2 separate regions of the Homo sapiens genome follow, and region 2 is linked to region 1. Evidence: fine-mapped expression QTL. A gene starts in region 1. The other region holds a variant in brackets. All regions are shown on one strand. Distances are between the middles of the regions. Region 1 holds the start of KLK11 (kallikrein related peptidase 11). Region 2 holds the start of KLK13 (kallikrein related peptidase 13).

Region 1 (4,384 bases):
GCCCATCAACCTTGCTGACACTACCCATCCCCATCTCTAATCCCCTTACCAGCACCCCTATCCCTGAGCTTCTCTCCATCCATCTCCCCATTCCCAGCCCCCCACCCCGGCACCGCCCCAGCCCCCGCACCCACGGCTTGAGGCAGTGGGCTGCTGTCAGGAGCCATCTGGGGGCGATGAGCGTCGCCCCACAGAGTAGCCGCGTCTTCTCGAACAGGGCTGCCTGCCAGGGCTGGGAGTGAGGCTTGCACTCGAACCCCTTGATGATCCTGGTCTCTCCCCCTACAAGCCCTGGAGGGGGTGAGAGCAAAAGAAGGGGCTCAGGAAGGAGAGGTGGTAGACCAGGAGGACTCCCAGAAATGGGGGTGGGGAGGAGAGAAAGAGAGTGGGTGGTCTGGGCCCTGGTCTGGTGTCCCTCTGGGTTGCCCTGGATGCTGGGGTCGGGTATTAAAGGATGAAAATACTTCCATAAGGTCAAATGCAGTGGCTCATGCCTGTAATCCCAGCACTTTGAGAGGCTAAGGTGGGAGGATTACTTGAGCCCAGGAGTTCTAGATCAGCCTAGGCAAACATAGTGAGACCTCCTCCCCCATCTCTACAAACAATTAAACAATTAGCCTGGCTTGGTGGCAGGTGCCTGTGGTCCCAGCTACCGGGGAAGCTGAGATGGCTTAAGGATCACTTAAGCCCGGGAAGTCAAGACTGCAGTGAGCCGTGTTGGCACCACGGCACTCCAGCCTGGACAATAGAGCAAGACTTTGTCTCTGGGAAAAAAAAAAAAGGAAATACTTCCATACTGGTTGGTCAGTAGCCCCTGTCCTGGGCGCTTTGAGTGACTGCTCCCCCAACTCCAGCTTCCTCAGCCCCTCCACGGGACCCTTTACGACCCCCTTGACCTCTCCTCCTTTGGCATTTAAAGGGATTATCTAGAAGGGCATCCAGGCCCTCATGACCACTGCTCCAGTTCAGGTGCCTTATGGGTTGTTCTGTAATTTGGAATCAGCCCTGTCACTGTCCAGACACAGAGGGTTAGGGGATCCCAGAGATTCAAGAGGGAGGATCCTGCCCTGCCCCCATCCCCTGCGTACCTGTTGCCAGAGCAAGCAGGATTAACTGCAGAATCCTCATGGCCTGGAGGGGGGAGGAGCGGGCCCCAGGTTCCTCTGGGAACAAGGAGGGACATGGGGCCGCATCACTTTACGGGGAAATCGGGAGGGGGGGGCTGGCTCATGCCCTCTCCTCTCTCCCTCACCTGCTCCCGCTCCCCACTTGGGAGAAACAAGGTTGGGGAAATCCCCTGTTTCTCACAGCACTCAGATCTCCAAACACTTAAAATATATCTTAGGTGTCTAGGGTGGCCTTGGAGAGGGCCTGGTCACAGCTAGAAGCTTCCGAGATACCAAGAACCATGTGGAAGTCGTTGGGAGGGGCTTTGAGCTGTCAAGCCATGGTTCGGCCCTGTTCAAGTCAGCCATGGGACCTCCCCGGCACATGTCAGAGGATGTTTTCCTTCTTGCCTTGAGAGCTGGCCAGGCCCCAGCAGCTTGGGGTGGAAGGACAAGGGGAACCAGACACCGTTCCGTAGCCACCCCTTTTTCATTGTCTTCGCAGCAGAGCGATATGGAGCCTTTGAGGTCTGCTGGAGGGGAGTAGGGGGCTCAGCCCCAGACAATGTCTGGGACCCCCATCACCCGGCTTGCTGAAGCCCTGTCCGCCAAACCCCTGCCCTTTTGAAGGACAGCCAAGCAAAGCTGGGCGGGGCTGGTCGAGGGGAGGGCCAGTGCCCTCCGCTGCCCTGGCCAGCGGGGGTGGGAGCAGAGGGCCAGCTCAGCAGCTGAAGCCATGGAGATTAGAGGTAACTGAGGCTGCGGACAGCCATCGGAGGTGAGAGGTGTAGAGAGAGGCCAGGAACCCCCACCCAAGCAGAGAAGGACAGAGCAGAGGGAGAAATGGGTGCCCGAGTGGGACAGGTGTCCTTGGGGAGGGCTGACACCTGGACGGGGAGGGGCAGCTTCCCTTTCCTCCTGGACTCACAGGCTCTGGGGCTGGGGCTCTGGGGGCCCAGTGGCGGCGGAGACGGCAGTGGCGGCAGCTACAGCAGGTAGGCTGGGTTGGAGCGCCAGGTGCCAGGCACCAGGCAGGCGGGCTGGCAGGGGGGCGGCCCTGGGCGGGCCCAGGATGACTGGCCTCCAAGCCCTGCCTTAATGCCCCGGGGCGGGGTGTGTGTGAGGGCCCTCCCCGGAGGCCTCTGAGGCACTGGCTGCCTGCCTGTGCCACCTCTCCAAGCCCCTCTTCTCCCTGTGTCTCAGCCTCCCTCTGTCTGTCTGTCTGTCTGCAGCCTTCCTTTCCCTGCCCTGAGTCTCTGAATCTGTGTCTCGTTCTATGTGTCATTCCCTGTCATTCAGTAATTCTGACTTTGTGTGATTTTTCTCTTTCTGTCCCTATGTGTCTGTCTGCCTTTCTCTGTCCTCGTCCCTGTCTCCATCTCCACTCTTCTCTCTCTGTCTGGCTCTGTGTGGCCCTTTCTCTAATTCCTTCTATCTTTGTGTCTCTCAGTCAGTCTCTCTGACTGCATCTCTGGCAATTTGTCTTGAAATCCCTCTTCTTCCATCTAATCTCCGTCTCTCTTTTTCCTCCCGTCCCAGCCACTCCCTCTCCACAGCCCCAGCCCAGGTGGGCCCCTGGCCTCCCCTAGGCCGCTCCCTTCTCCTTTGCAAGGAGAGGGGGGGTGTGCTGGGATGTCACACAGGTGGGGCTGCTGCCAGGCACAGGGGCAGGACCGGAGGGTGGGGGAGGCAGGTCAGGGCCTGTGGAAGCCGAGTCCAGGAAAGGGAACAGAGCCCTTGGCTGTGCTCCACCCCAGGGCTCCTCTGGGGCCTCGCTCCTCTGCTGACCCTTCCCCTGCCCGCTTCTCCCTGCCGCCCAGGCAGCCCGAGTCCAGCTGTTCACTTACTGGCTGCTGTGAGACCTCTGCCCGATGACTTCCAGTCCCGCAGCCACCTCAACCTCTGCATCTGCGGAACCCGAGCGCAGATTCCTGCTTCTCCCAGCTTGTTTGTTTTCAGTTAGGTCCCTTCCCTTGGCTTTCCTCCCCTCTCTCCCCTGACCAGGTGTGGAGCAAGGCAGGGGAGGGCCTAGGTTCTGACAGCAGCCAGCCCTGGCCTCAAACCTAGGTGCTTCCTCTTCCTACTACTATGACTACCCTTATGACGTGGGGACAAGGGACTCCACCCCTGCAAGGCTCAGTTTCTTCATCTGAGAGATGGGGGTGACAGACCTGCTTGCAGGGGAGGTTGGGATCAGGCTTCCAGGAGGGTCCACTTGGAAAGAGCAGACTGCGGGGGGGCTCAGCAAATGTGCCTCCGCTGGTATGATCACCCCTCACTCCCTCCCTCCTCCAGTTTCCCTTCAGTGCATTTGGGGAGATGGTCTCTCCTCACCTCTTGAGTCCCAGTGGAGACAGAATCCAAGGGGTGGGCAGGAGGATTAAAGACGTAGGCTGAGCTCTCCTGCTTTCCAAGCCTGCACTCCACCCTTCGTCTTATTAGAACAAAGCCACGTCCCACATTAAAGATACAATGTATGCTTCATTACAAGAAAGTAAACTGCAGTTGGCTAGTGGAAAGAATGCTACGTTTTATGGACATTGGATTAAATGGTCATAAATGTTGACTTTGCAGCTTTCATCTGGTATTTTGGAGCTAACAATTTTCTTTTTCTTTTTCGGGTCTTTTGTGGACTCTTGAAAAGCTTATAAGCTCTGGGCACTATTTCTATTATGCCAGATGAAGAAACATGTGTCTTATTTATATTGCTGGGTTTTTGTTTTTGAGACAAGGTCTCACTTTATTGCCCAGGCTGGAGTGCAGTGGCATGATCTCGGCTCTTTGCAGCCTCCACCTCCCCGGCTCGGGTGATCCTCCCACCTCAGCTTCCCAAGTAGCTGGGACTACAGGCACGCACCACCACACCCAGCTAATTTTTTGTGTTTTTGTAGTGACAAGATTTCACTGTGTTGCCAGGCTGATCTCGAAATCTGAGCTCAAGCCATCCTCCCACCTCGGCCTCCCAAAGTGCTGGGATTACAGGCGTGGGCCACTGCACCCGGCCTATATTATTAAAAGTAACTTTTTCTACTCCATTTCTGAGTAACTACTCAGGGAAGACCCTCATCCTATTTGAGCACTGGGTTTTTTGTTTGTTTGTTTTTGAGATGGAGTCTCGCTCTGTCGCCCAGGCTGGAGTGTAATGGTTCAATCTCGGCTCGCTGCAGCCTCTGCCTCACGGGTTCATGCTATTCTCCTGTCTCAGCCTCCTGAGTAGCTGGGATTACAGGCATGCGCCACCATGCCTGGCTAATTTTTGCATTTTTAGTAGAGTTGGG
Region 2 (4,384 bases), 37 kb after region 1:
ATCTTAAGCTTTGTATTCCCAACTTGATTCTTCTCAATCAAAACTGTTCGCTCCAGTATTTCCCACCTCAGTGCTCAGCCCCAAACCTGGGAGTCATCTTTGCTTCTCTTCTTTCCTTCATCACTCACAACCAGTTCCTATTGGTTTTATCTCCCAAATATCCAGTTATCTCCACACTTCTGCCACCATCTTGGTCCATGCCCCATCTTCTGTAGCCCAAATGACTACAACATTAACCTAAATCCTTCCACTTTTACATCCCTCCGATCCAGTCTTCTCAAAGTAGGCTGAGGACTCTTCAAACAAAGAAAGTCAGATGTTGTTCCCAGGCTCAACTTTCTTTAAAATAAAATCCAAAAAGCCTTCCCAAGGTGTGCAGGACTCTGTGCTGTCTGGCCCTTGCCAGCCTCTTTGACCCCATCTCCAACCTCTTTCTTCTGACTTCCTCTAGTCCAGCCTCATGGGCCTGTTCTTCAAACACACCAGGCATTTAAAGAAAAGAAGAATTTAAATCATCTTGGATGCCCCCATACTAGACATTTTATACTTGCTATTTCCTCTCTCTGCACAGTCCTTTCTCCAGACCTATGTTGTTTAATATGGTAGCCACTAGCTACATGTGGCTATTTAAATTTAAACTAATTAAAATGAAGTAAAACTAAATTAAAAATTCAGTTCTTAAGTCACACCAGCCATATTTCAAATGTTCAATAGCCTGAAGGGGCTAGTGGATAATTGGACAGCACAGATATAGGATATTTCATATATACATATATGGAATATTCTACTGGATGACCCTCAGAATTTAGAGGTTGTATGTCTGGGTCCTTCTTAATTCTGAGAGGTCAGCTCAAATGTCTCCTCTTCAGAAAGGCCTTCCCTGACCACCTGGTCTAATGTTGACTCTCCTGGTCCCGACTCCTCCCCCATTACATTCTTCCAGTTGGTCTTCATCAGAACAATGATTGCTATTCATTTCTCTTCACATTTGTATGTATTCGTTTTTAAAAATCTCTCCACTTTGACTGTAAGCTCCATTGACAACAGGCACCTTAACTGCTTTATTCAGTACCATATTCCCAGGACCTAACACAGCGCCTGGCACACAATGGGGGCTCAATAAATAAATGCTGTGTGTGCCAGGCACTGTGTCTGGCATTGAAAGCACAGCAGGGGTCCGTGGGACAGGGAGAATCCAATCCTGAACATGCATGCCATTTTGTGACTGTGTGACCTTATGCAAATCACCAGCCTCAGTTTCCCCAGCTGTCAAGTAGAAAAAGTAATAGTTCATCTCTCATTGCGCAGTTGAAGAATTCAAGATGATCCTGCATTTCAAACCGTGCAGCACAGCAGGTGGCATGGAGAGCACTCAGTCAGTGGGAAATGTTATTATTAATTATTAGCTACAACAGGAGGTCCCTCTGCCTCCCTAGCTAGTTTCCCCAACTACAGGGCAAGCAGTTGGATTAGCTCAGTGGTTTGCAGTTAGGGACAGAAGTTGTCGGTGAGCACAGGATCATTTTAGATGGTAGAGAGATGAGATTTAAGTAACGTTAAATCGCACACTCAGACGCTGAACCAGCATCCAGTTCTCTTTTAAACCTGATTTTGTCAAGGATAAAGTCTCAGGATGGTGCTAATATGGTTTTAACACCTCCCTAATCCTCACTGAGCTCACTTTTCAAAGCCAGGAGGACACAGAAGCCTCATCAGGCCACCTAACATTTATTACACTGAACCATCTGCAAAAGTTGTTTTAGGAAGGTCAAAAAGGGTCAAGTATCAGCAATTTCAGGTGGTCCAACCCAATAAACATATTATTTTCTTTTCATTGTGCAGGATTTATTTCCTTCCTTACCTTCTATTTATGACAAAGAATTCTATTCTCTATTCAGGACAGTAATATAAAGTTGAACATGCTTTTGTTTGAGTGAAAAAAGAAGAAAAAAAGCTAACTTTAAGCAAATGATTAGGTCAAAAGTTATAAAAATGGTTTTCAGAGCCTCAAGTCCAGGATATGGACAGGGAAAACAACCTTGATTAGGATTCTGACTCAGGCATCGCCGGTGTCATTGGAGCAGGAGCCTTCTGTCTTTGAGTCCTAGGTTTCTCTGCCATGAAATTGGAGTAATTACAATGCACCTACCTCGCCAGGTTGTTGAGGACTCCACAAGGCGTAGCGTGTGGGTCTCCTAGCCTAGGGTGTGGCACTCAGGAGTGGCACGGGCATGAATCCAGGGAGTGTCGCCAGAGGAGAAAAGCCACCCCACCTTCAGGCCAAGGATGGTGCCAGGTGCCAGGCACCCACAGATCCCTCCTTTTTCAGGTCTTGGCTCAAGGGTCAAGCCCTTTGGGAAGGCCTCTGGTCGGGAAGCCGCCATTACATCTCTAGGCCCCTGGCTTGGCTCCTTGAAGTCTTCACCTCATGTCAAGATAATTATTAACTAATTATTTGGATAATTGTTTGAATAACATCTGC[G/A]TCTGTCCCCGCTAGACTCCAGGTGCTGAGAGCAGGGACTGTGTCTCTGCTTGTACAGCACCCAGCACAGTGGCCGGTGTTTAATAGCTGTTTGTTGAATGAATAAATGATTCATGAACGGGGTTTCCAGAGAACCTGCCTACAACGGCAGGGAAAGATGGGAAAGATCCATAAGGATCTTAAGGACTACCAATTTGGGGTGAGGTCACATAGGTTTGGGGTCAACCCAAGGATTAAAATAACAATCTAGAAGGTTCTGGAAGGGGCTGAGTATGAAGACAGAATACTAGAGGCCGGGCTCGGTGGCTCATGCCTGTAATCCTGGCACTTTGGGAGGCTGACGCGGGCTACTTGAAGTTAGAAGTTCGAGACCAGCCTAACCAACATGGCGAAACCCCGTCTCTGCTGAAAATACAAAAATTAGTTGGGCGTGGTGGCGGGCGCCTGTAATCCCAGCTACTCGGGAGGCTGAGGCAGGAGAATCGCTTCAACCCGGGAGGCGGAGGTTTCAGTAAGCCAAGATCGTGCCACTGCCTTCCAGCCTGGGAGACAGAGCAAGGTTCCATCTCAAAAAAAAAAAAAAAAAAAAAAAGGAATACTACTAATAAAGTAATAACGGCTAAGTGGCTAACTTTCAAGTCCCTTCTACCTGCGACATACTGAAGGCTCGACGCATTACCTCGTTTCAATATTCACAGTGACCTTCTCTGGTAAGCACTTATAGATTAAGCCCATTTTCCAGATGAAAACAATTTAGGCACAAAGCAGCTGCTAGGCTACTGGCTCAAAGCGGCAGCGTCAGGACGCGAACCCATGTCTTTCAGCTTTCCAGAGAGGACAGGAAGCCTTGAACGCGGGAGGGGCTGCTGCGAGGGTATTTTGGGAGGTGAAGGGTCTGGGGTCGGAGGGCCAACCTCAGCCGGGAAACCAGGTCACCCAGGGACAAGCAGGAAGAGCTCTGAGCTGTCCCCACTGGACCCGGCCCCGAGTGGGCGGGGGGCGGAGCTCGCGGCTCCCACGCCCCCTCCCCCTCCGGCCTGACCCCTCCTACCATTGTCCCGAATGGCCGCCGCGCCTCCACCCCCGCGCATTCTTACCTCCTGACAAGGCCAAGGTCAGGGAGGCGATCACTAGGGCCAGGGGCCACATGGCTCCGGGATCGGGAGGGGAGGGCAGGGCGGGCGGGGCCTGAGGAGAAGGTGAAGGGGGTGTTGAGGGCGTGCCCGGAACCTCCGCGTCTGAAACCTCTCTGCTCCTGAATGTCTCCTCGCCTCATTCACTCTTGACAGCCCTGACCCTGGAATCTGCCCCCCGCCTCCAATTCCATCCTTGGTGGGGGTGCAGTGGCGAGGTGGGAGGAACAGTGTGCAACCTCCTGGGGCTCCGGCGTGCAGCCCCTCACCCCAGGAAGCCGTCCCTCCTCCCCTGCCCTCTGGCGAGCTGGGTGGTCGGTGCACTCTCGCCCTTTTCCTCCAGAGTCTGCCTTCCATTCTACCCCTCTGGGTCTGTCCACACGCTTGGTATTAGCCCAAGTTCTTATCTGTCCGCGCCCTTCGCCTCTCTCCGTCTCTGCAGGTTTCTCTCTAGATCTGAGACTCTAGCTTCACTCTCCCTCTCCCTGACTCAGCTGCCCTTCTGCTTTCCCCATCCTTCCTATCCCCTCTTCTCTCCCCTCCCTGCCCTCCTCCGCTCCCCGCCCCCGCCCCAGGCAGACCCTACCTGAGTGAGGGGCCCACGAGGAGCGTCAGCCGCCAGCTGTCTAGAACTTCAGCCCCGAACCATGGCTTTTAACCCCTGAACTCCCTCCCCCAGCTCACTCAGCATTTCCTGGTCCCTGGCCTCCCCCTCTCCACCCCCAGTGGCTCAGCGGGATGTCTCCAGGCACCCCCGACCTGGGCTTGG

Evidence for each region. PIP is the estimated chance that this variant, and not a neighbour inherited with it, causes the effect. A credible set is the group of variants that fine-mapping cannot tell apart.
Region 2: its variant is the best candidate, but not a certain one, in a credible set for the expression of KLK11 in pancreas (GTEx, PIP 0.79).

What each region holds. Positions count from the first base shown.
Region 1 is chr19:51,024,504-51,028,887 of GRCh38, forward strand. It overlaps KLK11 (kallikrein related peptidase 11), which reads right to left and starts at 2,113. Exons shown (of 6, transcript NM_001136032.3): 1 at 2,035-2,113; 2 at 1,089-1,163; 3 at 135-291. The coding sequence starts at 1,128. RefSeq lists enhancers at 1,192-1,750, 1,751-2,308, 2,868-3,424.
Region 2 is chr19:51,061,437-51,065,820 of GRCh38, forward strand. It overlaps KLK13 (kallikrein related peptidase 13), which reads right to left and starts at 3,656. Exons shown (of 5, transcript NM_015596.3): 1 at 3,580-3,656. The coding sequence starts at 3,631. The variant G/A (reference allele first, on the strand shown) is at 2,483.